Regions from separate parts of the Homo sapiens genome. Here regions 1 and 3 are each linked to region 2. A link means that fine-mapping ties the variant in region 2 to the plasma level of a protein whose gene starts in the linked region. Region 2 holds a variant in brackets. A gene starts in each other region. All regions are shown on their forward strands.

Evidence for each region. PIP is the posterior inclusion probability: the model's chance that the variant is causal. Protein levels are from antibody-based Olink assays in UK Biobank. Linkage for the fine-mapping came from a reference panel and not from the study's own genotypes, which makes the PIPs less certain.
Region 1: ERBB4 starts here. The variant in region 2 is fine-mapped to the plasma level of the ERBB4 protein (UK Biobank, PIP above 0.99).
Region 3: it holds the start of UMOD, and the variant in region 2 is fine-mapped to the plasma level of the UMOD protein (UK Biobank, PIP above 0.99).

The regions. Positions count from the first base shown.
Region 1 is chr2:212,538,502-212,543,952 of GRCh38, forward strand. It overlaps ERBB4 (erb-b2 receptor tyrosine kinase 4), which reads right to left and starts at 301. Exons shown (of 28, transcript NM_005235.3): 1 at 1-301. The coding sequence starts at 29.
Region 2 is chr3:186,929,238-186,934,700 of GRCh38, forward strand. ST6GAL1 (ST6 beta-galactoside alpha-2,6-sialyltransferase 1) reads left to right here and starts at 1,289. Exons shown (of 8, transcript NM_173216.2): 1 at 1,289-1,597. RefSeq lists enhancers at 904-1,512, 3,606-3,655, 3,676-3,735 and silencers at 1,200-1,279, 1,520-1,709. The variant CG/C (reference allele first, on the strand shown) is at 2,905.
Region 3 is chr16:20,350,363-20,355,825 of GRCh38, forward strand. UMOD (uromodulin) reads right to left here and starts at 2,353. Exons shown (of 11, transcript NM_003361.4): 1 at 2,327-2,353; 2 at 288-477. The coding sequence starts at 375.

The DNA.
Region 1 (5,451 bases), not on the chromosome of region 2:
CAGACCCAAAGTCCTGTCGCCGGCTTCATTTTTTGGAAGTCTCAGATCCCGTGCTGACAATTACATGTCCAAATGGCATATCCCCCTTTCGGGCACGCGGAGGAGATCCCCCAGCCGGGCGCGCGTGGGGGTGCGAGGGGGGCGGGCGCGGCGCGCGCGGTGTGGCGACTCCCAGGGCGGGCGACCGAGTCCGCGCCCGCGGGTCCAGGGCCGGGGCCCGAGGAGGGGGCGAGTGTGAGCGCGTGTGTGCGCGTGTGGGAGTGTGCTCGGTGTGTGCGCTTGGCGCTCTGGGCCGGACTGTGCAGCTATTTCCCCGCGTGAGCCTTCGCTTGCTCGCTCCCTCCTCACTTTCTCTCTCTCTCACTGGTTGGTCAACAATAAAAAAGGAAGGGGGGCGAAAGGTTTCCAAAAAAAGTTGATTGCAAAGAGGCGGTAGGTTTCCGGCCTCTCCCCGCAGCCGGGCTATGTTCTGCTCCTTCTTCAGTTTCCTTGCACCTCCAGTCCAAATCGGGAGGGGAGCGGGGCGGGGGGAGCTTCTCGCTTCTCCCCGGATCCCGTCCTTCTTTTTCCTCTCAGCTTTCCTCACACTTGTCCGGCGGCTGCGGTAATTAAAGCTCCGAGCGTCATTTCCAGCGCTCCGCGGTCTCCAGCTGCAGCCCACAGAGAAATTAATAAGACTCCAGAAAAAAAAAAAAAAAAGGTGCGGGGGGCGGTGGGAATAAAACAACCCTCCACGCAACCAGGCCGGCTCTGCTCAGCCGCGCAAACCCCGCCCATGCTCTGACCCAACTAGCCACGCCCTTCCCCCCCCCTTCCAAAGGGAAATCTTATTGGCTCAGCCACTCCCCAAAATCCTGGGCCTCCGGAGTTGGGAAAACACCTGTCAGGGAAAGGGAGCCTCTTGGTGGGGGCAGGGGAAGCTGGATTTAAAGGGCTCACCGAAGCCATGCACTGAAGCACTCGTCTTCCCTCCCTGGCAGAGGCCTGGGACAGCTGGCCTGCTGAGTGGACGGACCATTGGAGGGCCGCTTACGGAAATTTTTTTTTTTTTTAAACAAGAAAGTCAGCATTTTCTCCGTTGCCCCACGGTGCTCATCTACAGACAAGACTTTCCCTAGAAATAAAAGTCAATGTTGCTTTCAGCAAAAAGCCTCCGCCCGCAGTACTCTGCCACTCATGGTCCACAATTAGAAAGTACTTTAAAAGTGTGTACAGCAAGTAACTGGTAGCCCCTGAGGATTAGGTAGTGGTAGGGGTATAATCACCGCCCCGCCTCCCGCCCCCAGTTATGCCATCTCTCCGATTACTCCCACATTTCTAAACTGACCAACATTGAGCCAAACTAAACTTTCACATTTATAAAGGCATATCCTTTGATTTTTAGATTTTATGTTTTTTTTTCACCTTTGGAGTTCATTCTTATTAAGCAGATTCTAGTCCAAAGCCACTGATTTGATCTTAAAGGGCTAGAAATTGTCCCCAGCCTGAAAGAATTTAAGGAGGCCACATCAGAACATAATTAACCTTAAATGATTCTGTTTATTCTACAGTAGACCCAGCTTTAGGCCCCTTCCTTGTCCTCACTCTGCACATTCATGGTCCCTAATCTGGAGGTCATTGCTAGTTACGAAAGTCTCTGACCTTTTCTGAATCTAAAATATTCTGGGACTGGGTCATTTCAATGTACATATCCCTTGCCTTTTACAGCTCTGAAACCGCACCCTGGCAAGGGCCAGAATCTGCTGGGGGTAGTTATTGGTTTGCTATTTGTACAGGCATTCTATGTATGAATCACTTTCCTTTTTTGGTTTTTCTAGAAGCAGCAAATATATAAATAAAAAGTATCAGGGGAGCTTAAAAATCAAACCACCCTGCCTTTCATTTGAGACCTTGATCTCCATTTCCCACTCTCTTATCTATAGCCCCATCCCTTAAGAATTTCCATGGAGCTGAGAACAGATAGGAGGTACAGATGCCTGAAGCCTGAAGCTTTCCCTTTCTTAGACCCACAGCAAATAACAGGCTCCATGAAGACGCCCAACAAGCTGAGCGTGCGGTTTTACCAGAAGCAGCCTAGGGCAGAGAGGAACTAAGCCTAGAGCAGATGACGGAGACTTGACCAGAATGGTACTGATTGCAGCAAAACTGTGCACACTGCTCTTTGGGATTATCTTTGTTTTCTTTTCTTTTCTTTTTTTTAATTACTCTTTCTCTCTGTTTTCTCTTCTTTCATTCAATCTCTTCTCATTCCCCTTGTCTTAAATCCTTTTGAAATTCTCAGGCACCTCTCTTCCATAAAAGCTACTTCTTTTCAAAACTTACTTTCTGTCCCTAGAATGACAATTTAAATGAGAAAAACATCTTCCTTTTGTAAAAGTTTAAGTCTCTGTAGTAAAAAAAAAAAAAAAGTCTGGTTTCTGATGGCAATTATGTTGCACGAAGTGAAGGAATGGGCCAGGTGTGGTGGCTCATGCTTGTAATTCTAGCATTTTGGGAGGCTGAAGTGGGAGGATCCCTTGAGGCCAGAAGTTCCAGACCAACCTGGGCAACATAGTGAGACCTCAACTCTACCTTTTTTTTTTTTTTTTTTTAATGAGCTGGGTATGGTGGTGCACACCTGTAGTCTTAGCTATTGGGAGGCTGAGATGGGATAGAATTGCTTGAGCCCAGGAGTTAATAGTTACAGTGAGCTATGATCATGCCACTGCACTCCAACCTGGGAGATAGAGCAAGACCCTATCTCTGAAAAAAAAAAAGAGAGAAAAAGAAAAAGAAAAAAAAGACAAAGTGAATAAATGAGTTGCATATTTTCGCTTAAATTGTAGGGCAAAAACTTCATGGCCTGAATATTTTGGATTTTTTTATAGTTGTGCCAATTATGTTAGTTTTTGTTCCCCTGTCAATTTTATAGCTTTTCTATAACAGAATATCTTCTATATGCCCTGCTCTCACCCATATCTTCTAGAATAATTCTTGACAAAGGAGGATTTTCCATTAATATTCATTGGTTTAAAAAAACACTTAGTATATATTTTTGTGGATATTAAACAGCCCATACAAGGATTCACCTATTACATTACCCAACATACCCACAGTTTCCCTCTAATTCTGTTTGTTCTGCCTTGATCCCCATTTTACTCATTCTAACATTGAAACAACAATTTTAGATATGTGGCCACAGATGGGTATCTGAACAGCAGCCTATAAAATGATTTGACATCAAAGCTTTTGCCAAAAAAAGCATGATATATTTGATGGTGCCTTGTCTACCCAATCAGATTCCAGCTCAGATAATTTGAAATGTAGACAGGAAGGTAGTACCCTGTATGGGCAAGCCAAAGGATGAGAAAGAAGCCATGAGCTCAAGTCAAGAATCAGTTATTTCAGTGTCTACCCTCATTTGCTTCCCATCTCATCTAAGTCATTATAAGAAACAAATACCAGAGTAGGGAATATTTACTAGCTGATGTAGAAAGGACATGATACTTGGATTGTTAGAGGCCAAGATGAATCTCTGTATTTCTTTACTTTTCCATATAGCTTGATAATAAATCCCTATTAGGGGACCTAACTAGAATGTGTTGCTGTTACTCAGAACCTGCATAAAAATTATGTGGGTAACACAATGTGTTACTTAGCAAGCCACGGATGAATACCTGGAATTACCTGCTGAGTGCCCATTTTCCAGAAACAGCCCTTTCCTCAGTTCTACATGTTTAACTTGGATCTACCTCCGTGCTACAACAACTCCCACTCCCTGGCTCTAAGTTGGATCACTCAAAACACCAAGTTGAACCAAGTAAAATGCCTTGCTCACTGTTAATTGGATGGGACTTCCACTGAGTCCTTTATCTGGCAGTTTTTGTAAATGAAATAAAGAGTTTATATCCAGTCTTTCATGGATAGCTTTTGAGATCTAAAACTCCACATCTAGTTTTTCTTTCCTTCTATATAGGAATAACCAGGCCGTGGTAAGAATGAAGCTACTGTTTGAAAGAATCAAAATCTCAGATGGATCTGGAGAATATTCAAGCTCTTCCTGTGGGTTAGTTGTTCATGTCCCCTTTTGCCTTAAGCTAGTTCAATTTTCATTGTTGTTACCTGAAACTAGAACAGTGTGAAATGGGACTAGAACTTCTCCAACTTGAGAGAGATCATAGAGGTCATTATGCCCTTGAGAACAATATCTTGCTATGGCCCATATTCTTTTGTTTTCCTTCCAGATCTCTCACACTTTCCCTTGGTTGAAGCTGTAACCCCAATATAGAGATGGCTTTGTCCTGTGATGCTCTTTCATATCCCCTTCTCCTCTTCATTTCTTCCATTATTAACAGAATTCAAGGAGAGTCTTGACATAATGAGTGACAGAATGCTGCTGTTTGGAGAAAGGAACACATTGAACTCAGAATTCAGTGTAAAATTATTATACATCCCTGACTTTGTCCCAGAGTCTTATAGTTCATTCCAATCTTCAGCTTGTTTCTAAGACTTCCCTAAAGGTCATATTAGAGCTTGCTGCTGTAAATATTTTGCGATCGGCCATAAATATAAATTTGTGACAAATGTCAAGTAAGAAAAGTAAACAAGACTCTATTACAAACCAGTTATCTTCTCAACATTTAAAAATATATAATTATAATTTCACTTCTTGTGCCTTATCTTCCTCCTCATCTTTCTAAGTCATCTTGTGATCATGAGCAATTCAATTCATATACTGTGCCCATTTCCTCACCTTTAAAGGAAGGGCTTGTTACATCCCAAATCTAATACTTTATGACTCTCTGATTTACTCTTCACCTACTAAGTGCTTGTCAAAATTCCCATATACTTTAATTTTCTCTTACATTCCTTCTTCTTTACTCCCACTCACCCCCACACACATCTTCATCTGGGACACCAGATGAACACACCTTAAACTATCATTCTTAGCTCAGGCTGCTATATCAAATACCATTGACTGGGTGGCTTAAACAGCAAACATTTATTTCTCACAATTCTGGAGGCTGAGAAGTCCAAGATCAAGCTGCTAGCTGATTTGGTTCCTGGAGAGGACCCTCTTCTCGTTTGCAGATGGGCTCCTTCTTGCTATATCTTCACATGGCAGAGAGAGCCAGAGAGAGAGAGAGAGAATGAGATTCACTCCCCTGTTTCTTCTTTGTTTAAGATCACTAATCCGATTCGTGAAGGTTCCACCCTCATGATATAATTAGCCAAAACCCTATGTCCAAATACTATCAGATGGAGGATTAGGACTTCAAGATGTGAATTTGGGGATACACAAATATTCAGTTCATAGCAAGGCCTTAGGAAAATGTGCAGATAAGCTCACTTCTGTATTACTGAGAATTGATCAACAATTGGGCTCTTTACCACTCTTTCAGCCAAGGAGAAACTGGTAAATACCAACCAGGCTCGGCATTATGATAATCAAGCAGATGACAGACACAGTGG
Region 2 (5,463 bases):
GCTTTCCTTAATATCTCCATTTTGCAGAAGAGGAAAGGGAGGCTCACAGGATGTGGAACTCACCCAAGAAGGCACAGCGAGTTGGTCATAAAGATTTGAATTCACTCTGGCTGGCACTCCCTTCAATTGGAGCTCTTTGTACTGAGCAAAAATGCCTCAGGGGCAGCAGGGAAGGGAATGACAGTATCAGCAGAAGGGAGCCAGGATCAGGACAGGGAGGAAGCAGTGTTTGGAAGAAGGGTGCTGGGGACAGGGTGCGGATGTAACTTCCCTTTCCAAGGTTGGTGATGTGGGGTAGGCACCTCATTTGGAGACAGAACTCTGGGCCTGGGCTTCAGGCACTTTAAGTGTGCACTGGACTTTGTGTTCCCAGAGGACCCCCAAACCTTCCAGTATCTCCTTCCTTTCCCCTTTCCCACCCAGCACACAGCCTGGTGCCTAGTGTGCACTCAGTAGACAACTGGGATATGACTATTGCCTCTGGTAGTCACATCCTCTCTTTGGGCTATGGGAGGCTGGACTGGAGGCCTTAAAGGCCCCTTCCGCCCTCCTGTTGGGCAGTTTTTCTTTCTTAGGGAAATCGCCTTGGGGCTATCGGGGATGGTCAGTACGCAGCTTGGTTAATCCTCTTTCCTTCCCCAGCAGCCCCACCGTCGTCCGGGTGAAAAGAAAGAACCTCGCTCCCTTCACCATCCAGGCTGAGGCTTCAGTCTTTCAGCCTGCAGCTTGGGGTGGAAGCCTCTGGGTGCAGGGGTTCGAGGACGCTCCTCTCCTTCTGTATTTGCCATTTGAGAGCGCCCAGTAGGAGTCATGCCTCAATGTTAGGAGGTTAATGCCAAACGCAGTGAAAGATTTTGTTCTTTCCTATTCTAGATAAGAGCAACACGAGTCTTCGGAGAGGTTAAGCGACTTCCTCAGGGTCTCGCAGTCAGCCGGTAGCAGAGACCGGGTGTACAGCACCCGCATGTTAGGACCAAAAGCCGGACACTGCTGGATTGACCCCTCGCGGCCAAGCGGGGAAGAGGCATTTAGGGGTCCTTGCGCAGCCGCGTGGCCCCTCCCACTCGGCCCTCGATCCACCCTCCTTGAGAGCAGGCAGGATTCTAGCATCACCCAGTGCCTTCATCAAGAGTCTTTAACCCCAAGCCCGCTCGCTAGCGACCTCCAGGCCGGTTTGGGGCGCGGTGTGGCCGGTGGCGAGAGGTGGAGTGGGGGCGGAGACCGACCCAGTCTTCGCAACTCTATTTGCATACGGAGGCGACTCGCTTCCTTCCCGCCCCTCCGCCGCGCTCTTCTTCCTTCCTTCTCCAGTCCCTTCCACTGTGCGTCTTCTGTCCCCCGTTCTTCCCCAGCGGACCCCTCTTTCGAGACTCCCTAGTGGGGTCCCCAGCTCCCGGGCGATCCTGCCCTTGCCGAGCGCGTTTTCTGGAGTCACCTGGGGGAGGGGAGTCCTGGGCAGGGCCGGGCTGGGGAAGACGCCTGGGGCACTGCCCGGCGTTAACAAAGGGAGCCGATACCGACCGGCGTGGGCGCGGAGCGGGCGGCCGCCACCGAGCGTGCTGAGCAACCGCAGCCTCCGCGGCCGAGAGTGCAGCGAGTGAGTAGGGGGTGCGGTGGGCGGCGGCGCGGCCCGGGCTATCCCGGGAGGAGTGTGATGCAAAGGGGCGCGGGAGGATAGCGGAGGCGCGGGGCCCGCGGCGCGCGTAGGGCGCAGGGAATCTCTCTCCAGCTCCGCCTCAGCTGCCTTGGCTCCGGGGCTGGCCGCCTTTTGGTTGGGGGTGTGTGCATTTTTGTCAGGGCCAAAGGGCCACCCTGGCTTCTCTCTGGCTCCGCGAGCCTGCGGATCCACAACAAACCCACGTGCGCACAGCCCCGGGGAACACGGATTTCTCCACGGCACCGTCAGTATGGGGTGGGGTGGCGTGGGGGCATTGCGCCTTGCAGAGTCTGGGTTTACGGATCGACAAATTGAGGCCCGCGGCAGCGGAGGGGGCACAGGCACCATAACAAACGCACGTGCGCCCTGCCCGGAGAGCTGGACGCACTGCATACCCTTAGGGGCCGCCCTGCGGTGCCGGGCCATTGTCTCAGCCTCGGGGGAGGGAGTGGCTCTAGAGGCGCCACTTGCTGGAAGAGGGCGAGAGAGACATTTAAAAGGTACCGCTTGGGCATCAGACTAAACTGCCAGACTTAAAAAGGGAAACCAAAACAAGAAAGCAGCTACAAAAAGGTTACTCCAGGCTGAGTCGGTCCCCGGCCGTGGCGCATTCTTTTGGGTGAAGTGGACCACCCCTCACCTTCACCTCCTGGAGGTCTCTTAGAGATGTGGGTTGGGTTAAGGGTCTAAGGGTGCCCCTCAAAAAAAGAGAGTGCTGGGTGCACTATTGTCCCCGCACTCCGGCGATTGCCTCTGTGGGGATATTTTGGTCGCCTCCTCAGCCTGCGGGAAGAATGTACGAGTCGCCCAGTGCGGTCTTGCTCTTTGCCTCTGAGGCCCGTGTCCGTGTGCCCAGACACCCCAGATGTCACTAGCCCCTTTTGGCTTGTTAATGCATTTTCGCAAGCAAGGCCAGCCGAGACCTCGTATTCTAGCTGGGGACGTACAATTTTCAGTTCTGAGTTTATTTGAAAGAAATTCCGAGGTCCGGAAAAAGAGAACTCTTGTTTGTTTTGCTTTTTCTTTGCTTACATATGCTCAGCTCAGCTTTGCAGATGTTAATCGGACACGATCTGCAGCGGGGAGATGGTTTCGCGGTGAATTGGTCTCTGAGGCGATGGTGTTGGTGCAGGTTGTGGGCGTGCAGTGTGAGCAGGAATGGAGGCGCCGCCGCCCCAGTGTGTGCCTGCTGAGCGGGCGGGCTGCTGCCTCACCTTGGCTAGTGTGGCTGAAGATTAACCTGTCCC[CG/C]GGGGGGGAACTGGAGAGCCTCCAATCCTATTCCGCTGTTATTGAAAAGGTCTAGAGAGCATCTAGGGAGCCTTCTCATTTTACAGGCAGGAAGCTGAGGCCGGAGAGTTCAGCCACTTGTCCAAGTTTAAACCGGGTGAAACGGGCCACAGAGAGAACACTTGAGTGTGGGTCTCCCAACTCCCACTGCATCGCTCAGCGGGCAACTAAAGGCAAAACCGGGATTCTGTGATTGGCCTAAAAGGCAGTGGCCTTAGGCAGAATAGGGTGAAACAAAGAGTAATTCAAATAGAAAGCTGCACCCTTCCATTATCCCTTTCAAGAATTCTTTATTCTGTTGAGAAAAAATAGATTTAGTAATTCCTTACTCTCCTTCAAGCCTTTCAAAAGCTTAGTTATTTTTCTCTCCTGGCTGCCCCTTCCCCTCAAATTGGAATAAGGCCAGCTACGGAGACTCAGATGTTTTGCCTCTCATCCTTGTGCCAGGAGGCCTTTGTTTGGGCAAAAGCATGGGCTGTTGACATCAGCCCCACGGGGAAGAAAGTGTGTCTTAGCAAGCTACTCCTGAGCCACTTGTGGGAGAACAAAGCATTGTTTTCACTGATCTTATTAAAGTTACTTTTTTTTTAACGAGAGTCCCATGGAAGTAGCTGCTTATTTTTGTATTTGGCAGAGAAGTAGGAAAACCAAAAAAACACTGAGAAGCCGGATTTCCCCAAAGTTAACATGTTGTTTTGCACTGTGCCTGTTATCTCCTAGTTACACTTGTTTCTTTTCCTTAGAGTTTCCAGCGTGTTTCACTTTCAATGTGATTCTGGTAGCAACAGGAGGCAGCTGGATGCCTAGGCAGATAGGGTCAGGTACCCGGTGAAACCCCCACCTCCAGGCCAAAGACAGTTTAAAGCCTGAAAGCCAAGCTACGAGTTAAATCCTCAGACCAGAGTGAGAACTTGTTTGGCGTGCTTTCCCCTAATTGATTCCTACATTTCGCCTGTTTTACATATACCCACTTTTTCCTAATTGGTTTTCTACGCTGCCGTGCCCACCTTTGAGTGGTGTCTTTGCTTTCATCTTTTTTGCATACTCACAAACCGGTCAGCATGCACTCCCTATTCTGAGTCCATAAAAGGCCCCTGACCCAGCCACATTGGGGAACTTTTCCGTCTTCAGGTAGGGGACCAACCCGGTGTCCCCTCTCTGCTGAAAGCTGTTTTCAACACTCAATAAAATTCTTATCTGCCTTCCTCTCCCTTCAATGTCCAGTGTATCCTCATTATCCTTTGGTGTGGTGCACGAGCTCGGAACCACCGAACGCGGGTACAAGCTATAATACAGTGAGCTGGGACACACCTGCATGGCCGAGCGAGCACAGGTGGGGCATTGCTGGCCCGAGGACCAAGAAGAAAAATCCTACATCAATTCCTCTTGGCACTGCAGTATAGTTTTCTCACCAGGACGCTGACCCTGTAAGGAACTTCAGAAATCATGTGACTGGACCCTTTTACTTTCCAGATGGGAAAAGTGAGGCCTAGAGAAGAGAAATTGCTTGCCTAATGATACACAACAATGCGTGGTCTACTTTTAGTGCACCTTTTTGCGTAAAAGGGAAATGGTTGCATCAAACCAGTAGTTGTTGGTACTCCAGAGAAAAGCCAAAGTTATGGTTGTTATAACAACACCCTTTAAGTCAGAGAACCAATTCCTTATGGATTTAAATAGGTTTGGTTATTAAGCAAAGCCAGGGATCCCAGTAGTAGGTATGCTGAATAGTGCAATTATCTCTGGGGATCAGCTTTCTTTAGTGTTTGCTGAACGGTTCACTTTACTCTTGTGCTGGGTTCCTCCATGTCTCTGTCTTGTGCTTCCCCATTTAGGGGCTGCTTTGTATGAAATCATAAGGCAAGAGGCAGTGAGAAGACAGAAGAGAGAGGCGCCACTTAGCTGTTCATGCTACTTAACCTCTTGGGCTCCAGTTTCCTTCTTTGTACAGTGAGGGTTCTCCTTGCCCAGTCTCTGCACAGGCTGTTCCAGCGGAGCGGAAGATGCTCAGGCCATAGGAGGGGTTTGGGGTCATCTTCCTGTCTCTAGTATTACTTTAAAACCAGCAGGCTGGGCCAGGTGTGGTGGCTCACTCCAGTAATCACAGCACTTCAGGAGGCCGAGGAGGGAAGAGTTCGAATTCCTTGAGCTCAGGAGTTTGAGACCAGCCTGAGCAACATAGTGAGACTACCTCCCCCACCGCCATCTCTACAAAAAATAAAAGAACAAAATTAGCTGGGCATGGTGGCGTACTCCTGTGGTCCCAGCTACCTGGGAGGCTGAGACAGGAGAATCGCTGGAGCCTGGGAGGTGGAGGTTGCAGTGAGCCGCGATCTCACCACTGTACTCCAGCCTGGGGACATAGCGAGACCCTGTCTCAAAAACAGAAAATAAAACAAAACAACAACAACAGAAAACCAGCAGGCTGCCTCTGCGTTGTGTAAAGTGAGGGGAGTAAGGCGTATGAATCTCCTGGGGTTGTTGAGGGCATTAAGTCACATGATGCATTCTTATGACTG
Region 3 (5,463 bases), not on the chromosome of region 2:
GTACTCCAGGGACCCCAGTATGAGCATCGCCTGGAAGCTTGTTAAAAATTCAGCATCTCAGGTCCTACTGCAGATCTGCTGAACCAGAATATGCACTTTAGCAAAATTTCTAAGTCAGTCCTGTGCATATTGAGTCTAAGAAATGGACTTAGAATGAAGACAATGCAAGTCTCAAGTGCGATAGGAGGATTGAGATCACCTCTGACAGGTGCTACATTGCTTCCCCCACACATTCACACATACACGTGCATACACACATATACAACGCACACACACTTTTCACTTACTTGCTTCTGAGGTGTCAGTGGCTGCAGTTGTGATGAACCAAGAGGCCACCACCACCATCAGCATCCAAGTCAGAGATGGCTGCCCCATCCTTTCTGCTCTTCCCGCTACTTCAGGTCTAGATAGCACCTGCCCAAAGGAAAGACGGGTTGGCCCTTTGAATTTTTCTCTCTGTCTCTGATGTCTGGTGTCCTGTGAACAGAGATGGATGGGACAAATGCATGATCTAACTCTCCTCCCCACAGCTGGAAGGAGTGCTTTGATTGTATAGTATACAACTCCAGGAGGTGTCACTTATATGGACTAAAAAATTGCATAACACTGCAGCCCTTGTTTTGCTGGGACTTTACCCCTTGTACTCCCCCTCCTTACCTCACCAACATCCCAGTCTTGGCTCCCCAATTCTCAGCACATTGCACATTTTGAAGAACTCAGTCATTTGGAGCAGGAAGTAGCCAGATGGAATAGTGTTCTGGACTCACCACTTTACTGAAGGCAGCTTTGGATTTTAACTGATCCTCTGCCTGGAAACTTTCAATTTGCCTGGATCACTTATTCATTCAACAAACATCTATTGAGTAGCTACATTGTGCCAAACAGGGAGCTAGTCACCATGGAGAACAATGAACATGGCAGTCTGCTCCTTCATGCAACTCACATATCGTAAAGAAGTGGCTTGAGACGAGCAACTTGAGAGGTAATTAACCTTCACAATGCATTTAAATGTTTCTGGAGTGGTCACTTACTATTTCTTCCAATTGGAAAAATAGTCCAGGGTGGATGCCAGTATTACCCCAGTGTTTATAGCAGCAAAATAGGGTGGCATGTTGGTTAAGTATGTAGGAGCTGCAGCCTGCACCTGAGGTTCAAATCCCTGCTTTACTGATCACTAACACTGTGATGTGGGTATTTCAGTTTACTAAGTCTCCGTTTTTGTCTGTGAAATGGAGATTGTTGCTTTCACAAACTGAATATCTATGATGGGCCAGGCTCAGTTCAAAGACATTCATGTGCTCAAAGGCATTGGGTCCTAGAGCAACGTTTTCCAGATCTTCGTGACCATGATGTACTAAAAGAAAAACATTTTATGTTGCCAGGTGCAGTGGCTCATGCCTGTAATCCCAACACTTTGGGAGACTGAGGGGGTGGATCACAAGGTCAGGAGTTTGAGACCAGCCTGGCCAGCATGGTGAAACCCCATCTCTAATAAAAATACAAAAATTAGCCGGGCATGGTGGTGGGCGCCTGTAATCCCAGCTACTCGGGAGGCTGAGACAGGAGGATTGCTTGAACCTGGGAGGCAGAGGTTGCAGTGAGCTGAGATCGTGCCACTGCACTCCTGCCTGGGTGACAGAGAGTCCATCCCCCCCCCCCAAAAAAAAAAAGACAGAAAGAAAGAAAAACATTTTATGTCATGATCTAGTGCAGTCGCTTCTGCATGTATGTGCACACACACATAAAATTTTATAAGACAATTGATATCCTTACTACATTAAGTGATTTAATTCTTACCACAACCCTATGAGATAAGTATTATCCTAGTTTGCAGATGAGAAAACAGGGGGACAAAGAGGCTAACTGCTTGCCTCAAATTTGTATTGCTTACTGACATATTCTATTATATTTAATTAAAAGAAGTCCCTGGATATAACCCACAAAAGGAATGATTTTATGACCCGCTAATAAGATGCGACCTAAAACACTGCATATTGTCACTGGGATTAACTAAGATGACATATGTCGAGCAGGGCCCAGCACATAGCAAGTTGTTCATTGTTGTAACCCTGGTACCTGGCACATAATAGGTGCATAACTAATATTCATGGAATAAGTCAAAAAATAGTAGTCATTGTTACTAGGACAGAGAGGATCAAAGAGAGGAAAACTAACTTACTAAAGATCATGAAGCCAATAATTGGCAGAATAATGACTCAAATCCAGGTCTGACCCCAGTGTCCAAGGTCTTAATTTCCTCTCCTACCTCCCTCAAATAGGATGGGGAGAAGCTGGGCTAGGAGAAGACAGCTACAGATAGCCTTACCTGAAGCCAGAAAGGTAGAGTTAGTCTGGTCATGATGTGCCTCATACTTATATATACACATTTGCCCCAGGCTGGCAATCTCTCCTCCAATTAGTCTCTAGTTCTGTTTTTTGATATTGTTTTCTTGGGGGTGGAATATTTTTTCCTCCTGGCATAATGTTTGCCTTGTCCAAGCTGTGAGGTTGTTGTTGTTCTTTTTCCTAATAGCTAGAGACCCCAAATGATTGACATTGGGGGGTCACACCTGTGCCCGGAAATACAAGGTCACTGTTTCGCACCTTCTAACAGCAAGAGATTCCATAGTTAGAAATTAACTGGGAAAGCAGTGCCAAGGTGCTGGGCTTCTTCTTGGTCACTGACAAGGGCAGGGTGGGATCAAGGAGCCAGGCAGAAGCCAGTATCTGAAGCCAGGCTGCATAAGGACAAAAGGGATATTCACTGCCCCAGATGGGAGGTGCACCTGTCTTGGAGAGGGCACCCTTCTGAAACACCCATTCTCATGAGATCAGCCTTAGAATCCAGACACAAGCAAGAGAGGAGCTGAGAATGGCTGAAAGTCAGAACCAGAAGGTAGTTCAGACATCACTGGACCTGACCCACTCTGTACAACAAAGAATCAGGTCTGATGACTGGGAGGTCCCTTTGGAGGCGAAATAAATTTGCACTTAAATAGACTGACTTTGGAGTCAGTCTGCCTCCTTTATCTGGTGTTTATTGTGTGGCAGTGGGCTCATTTCTTAACCTTCCTGAGGTCCAGAGGTCAATTTCCTTGTCTATAAAATGAGAATACCCATCTCCCACAGTAGTAATAGTAACCAAAGGAGATGATGCAAGTAAAGTCATATAGTAATGATTATATTCATGGAAGTAGTGAAAATTCTGCTTTGCTGTTGTGCAATCACTGAGGTAGAAAATGACAGAGCCTGAGTTAAAACCATGTCTTCAGACCCAGTTCAACATACATGACATTCCAAAAGTCAGTGTGAGAGTGGCTGTCATCATGTTGAGAAAAATAAAATATGTGTGAACTTGGGCTGAGCAGGAAAATATCACCATGATCACTGCATTGATCTTTTTTTTTTTTATACTTTAAGTTTTAGGGTACAAGTGCACAACGTGCAGGTTTGTTACATATGTATACATGTGCCATGTTGATGTGCTGCACCCATTAACTTGTCATTTACATTAGGTATAACTCCTAATGCTATCCCTCCCCGCTCCCCGCATCCCACAATAGGCCCCTGGGTGTGATGTTCCCCTTCCTGTGTCCAAGTGCTCTCATTGTTCAATTCCCACCTGTGAGTGAGAACATGCGGTGTTTGGTTTTTTGTCCTTGCGATAGTTTGCTGAGAATGATGGTTTCCATCTTCATCCATGTCCCTACAAAGGACATGAACTCATATTTTTTATGGCTGCATAGTATTCCACGGTGTATATGTGCCACATTTTCTTAATCCAGTCTATCATTGATGGACATTTGAGTTGGTTCCAAGTCTTTGCTATTGTGAATTGCTCTTTTCAGGACATTTCTCCATCCTGTCCCACTCAGTGGTAGGGTAACCACTGGCACTGGTGTTGTCATCTCCTCAGGATTATGTCCAAGGAGTGGAAATTCTGGGTCAAAGAGGTAGCACAGCTGTAGGAATATTGACTCCTCTTCCCAAACAGCACCCCAGAGAATTATTATAAATTGGTTTACAATCCCACCAACACTACTCACCAGTTCTGAGCATTGGTAACTTGCTTTCATCTTTGCCAAAAGGATAAGTGGAAACGATCTCATTATTGTTCATTTTTGCAATTCTTTGATGAAAAGGGAAGTTATCTCTTCATTTATTTACTTTTTTTTTTCTGAACTAGTCGTTTTTATCCTATACCTTTTTCATGAGGCCTTGTCTAAACCTTATTATGGGTGTCTTCAAAGGATTAAAGACAGTGACCCCAGGTGGCTTCTGGAGTTTTCTTGACAAAGACTTGGGCAGGAAAATGGGGAGTTTGGGTTGGAATCTATTCATAAGTGTAATCACCATGCTTTCTAGTTTCTGTATTTGGTGCTTGTACATTTTGGGGCCTTACTGATCATGGAGGGACTGCCCCTCCCAGGGCTCAATAATTACTAGAGATCAAAAACGACTTATCTGTGAATGTGCCTTTCCGACTGCAAATCAATCAATCCAGACCACATACCCCCAACCCTTGGCCTCCTTTTTGGGGCTTTTACACTTAGGGTCACTACTTGCTGCTTTAGATCACCCCAAGGGACCAGGTACCAGACAACTAGAGACAACTCCTATGGCCCAGAGGTCTCTGAAATTATTCAAACTAAGCCAATCCTAAATCTGCTTACCTTGCCTCTCCCATTCCTTCCTGCAGAAACTACAATAAAGGCTCTTTCCTGCCTTTTCCCTTGCTCTCTTTGCTTCCTGACCGACCCTGGTACTTCCCAGCAGCTCTTCCTCTCCCTTCAGCCCCTCTGCCCAGTGTGGTGTGTCCCCTTCTCTTGGGATCTGTGAGTATAACAAGTTGTCAGTGGCCATAATTTCCTGCTCTGTTGCTCATCAAGTTCACCAAAGACATCCATGTTACCAAATTCAATCAATATTTTTCTCTTTATCTTACCTCTAGGACAGTGCACAATAAATATTTGTTTTTGAACGAACCTTAATCTCTCAGCACTTCGCTCTTGAAACACTCTTCTTTCTTTCTTTCTTTTTCTTCTTCTTTTTTTTTTTTTTAATGGAGTCTTGCTCTGTCACCCAGGTTGGAGTGCAGTGGCTCAGTCTTGGCTCACTGCAACCTCCACCTCCCAAGTTCAAGTGATTCTCTTGAATCCTTGAATCCTCAGCCTCCCGAGTAGCTGGGATTACAGGTGCATACCACCATGCCCGGCTAATTTGTGTTTTTTTTGTACACATTGGCCAGGCTGGTCTCGAACTCCTGACCTCAGGTAATCTGCCTGCCTCGGCCTCCCAAAGTGCTGGGATTACAGACATGAGCCACCACAACCAGCCTGAAACACTTTTCTCTCTTAACTTTCAAACATGGGTAGGAGACTTGATCTTAATAATGCTGAGAACAATCACCCACTGAGCACTTCTCTTGGGTCAGACACTGTGCTCAGTGCTTTTGCCTCCATT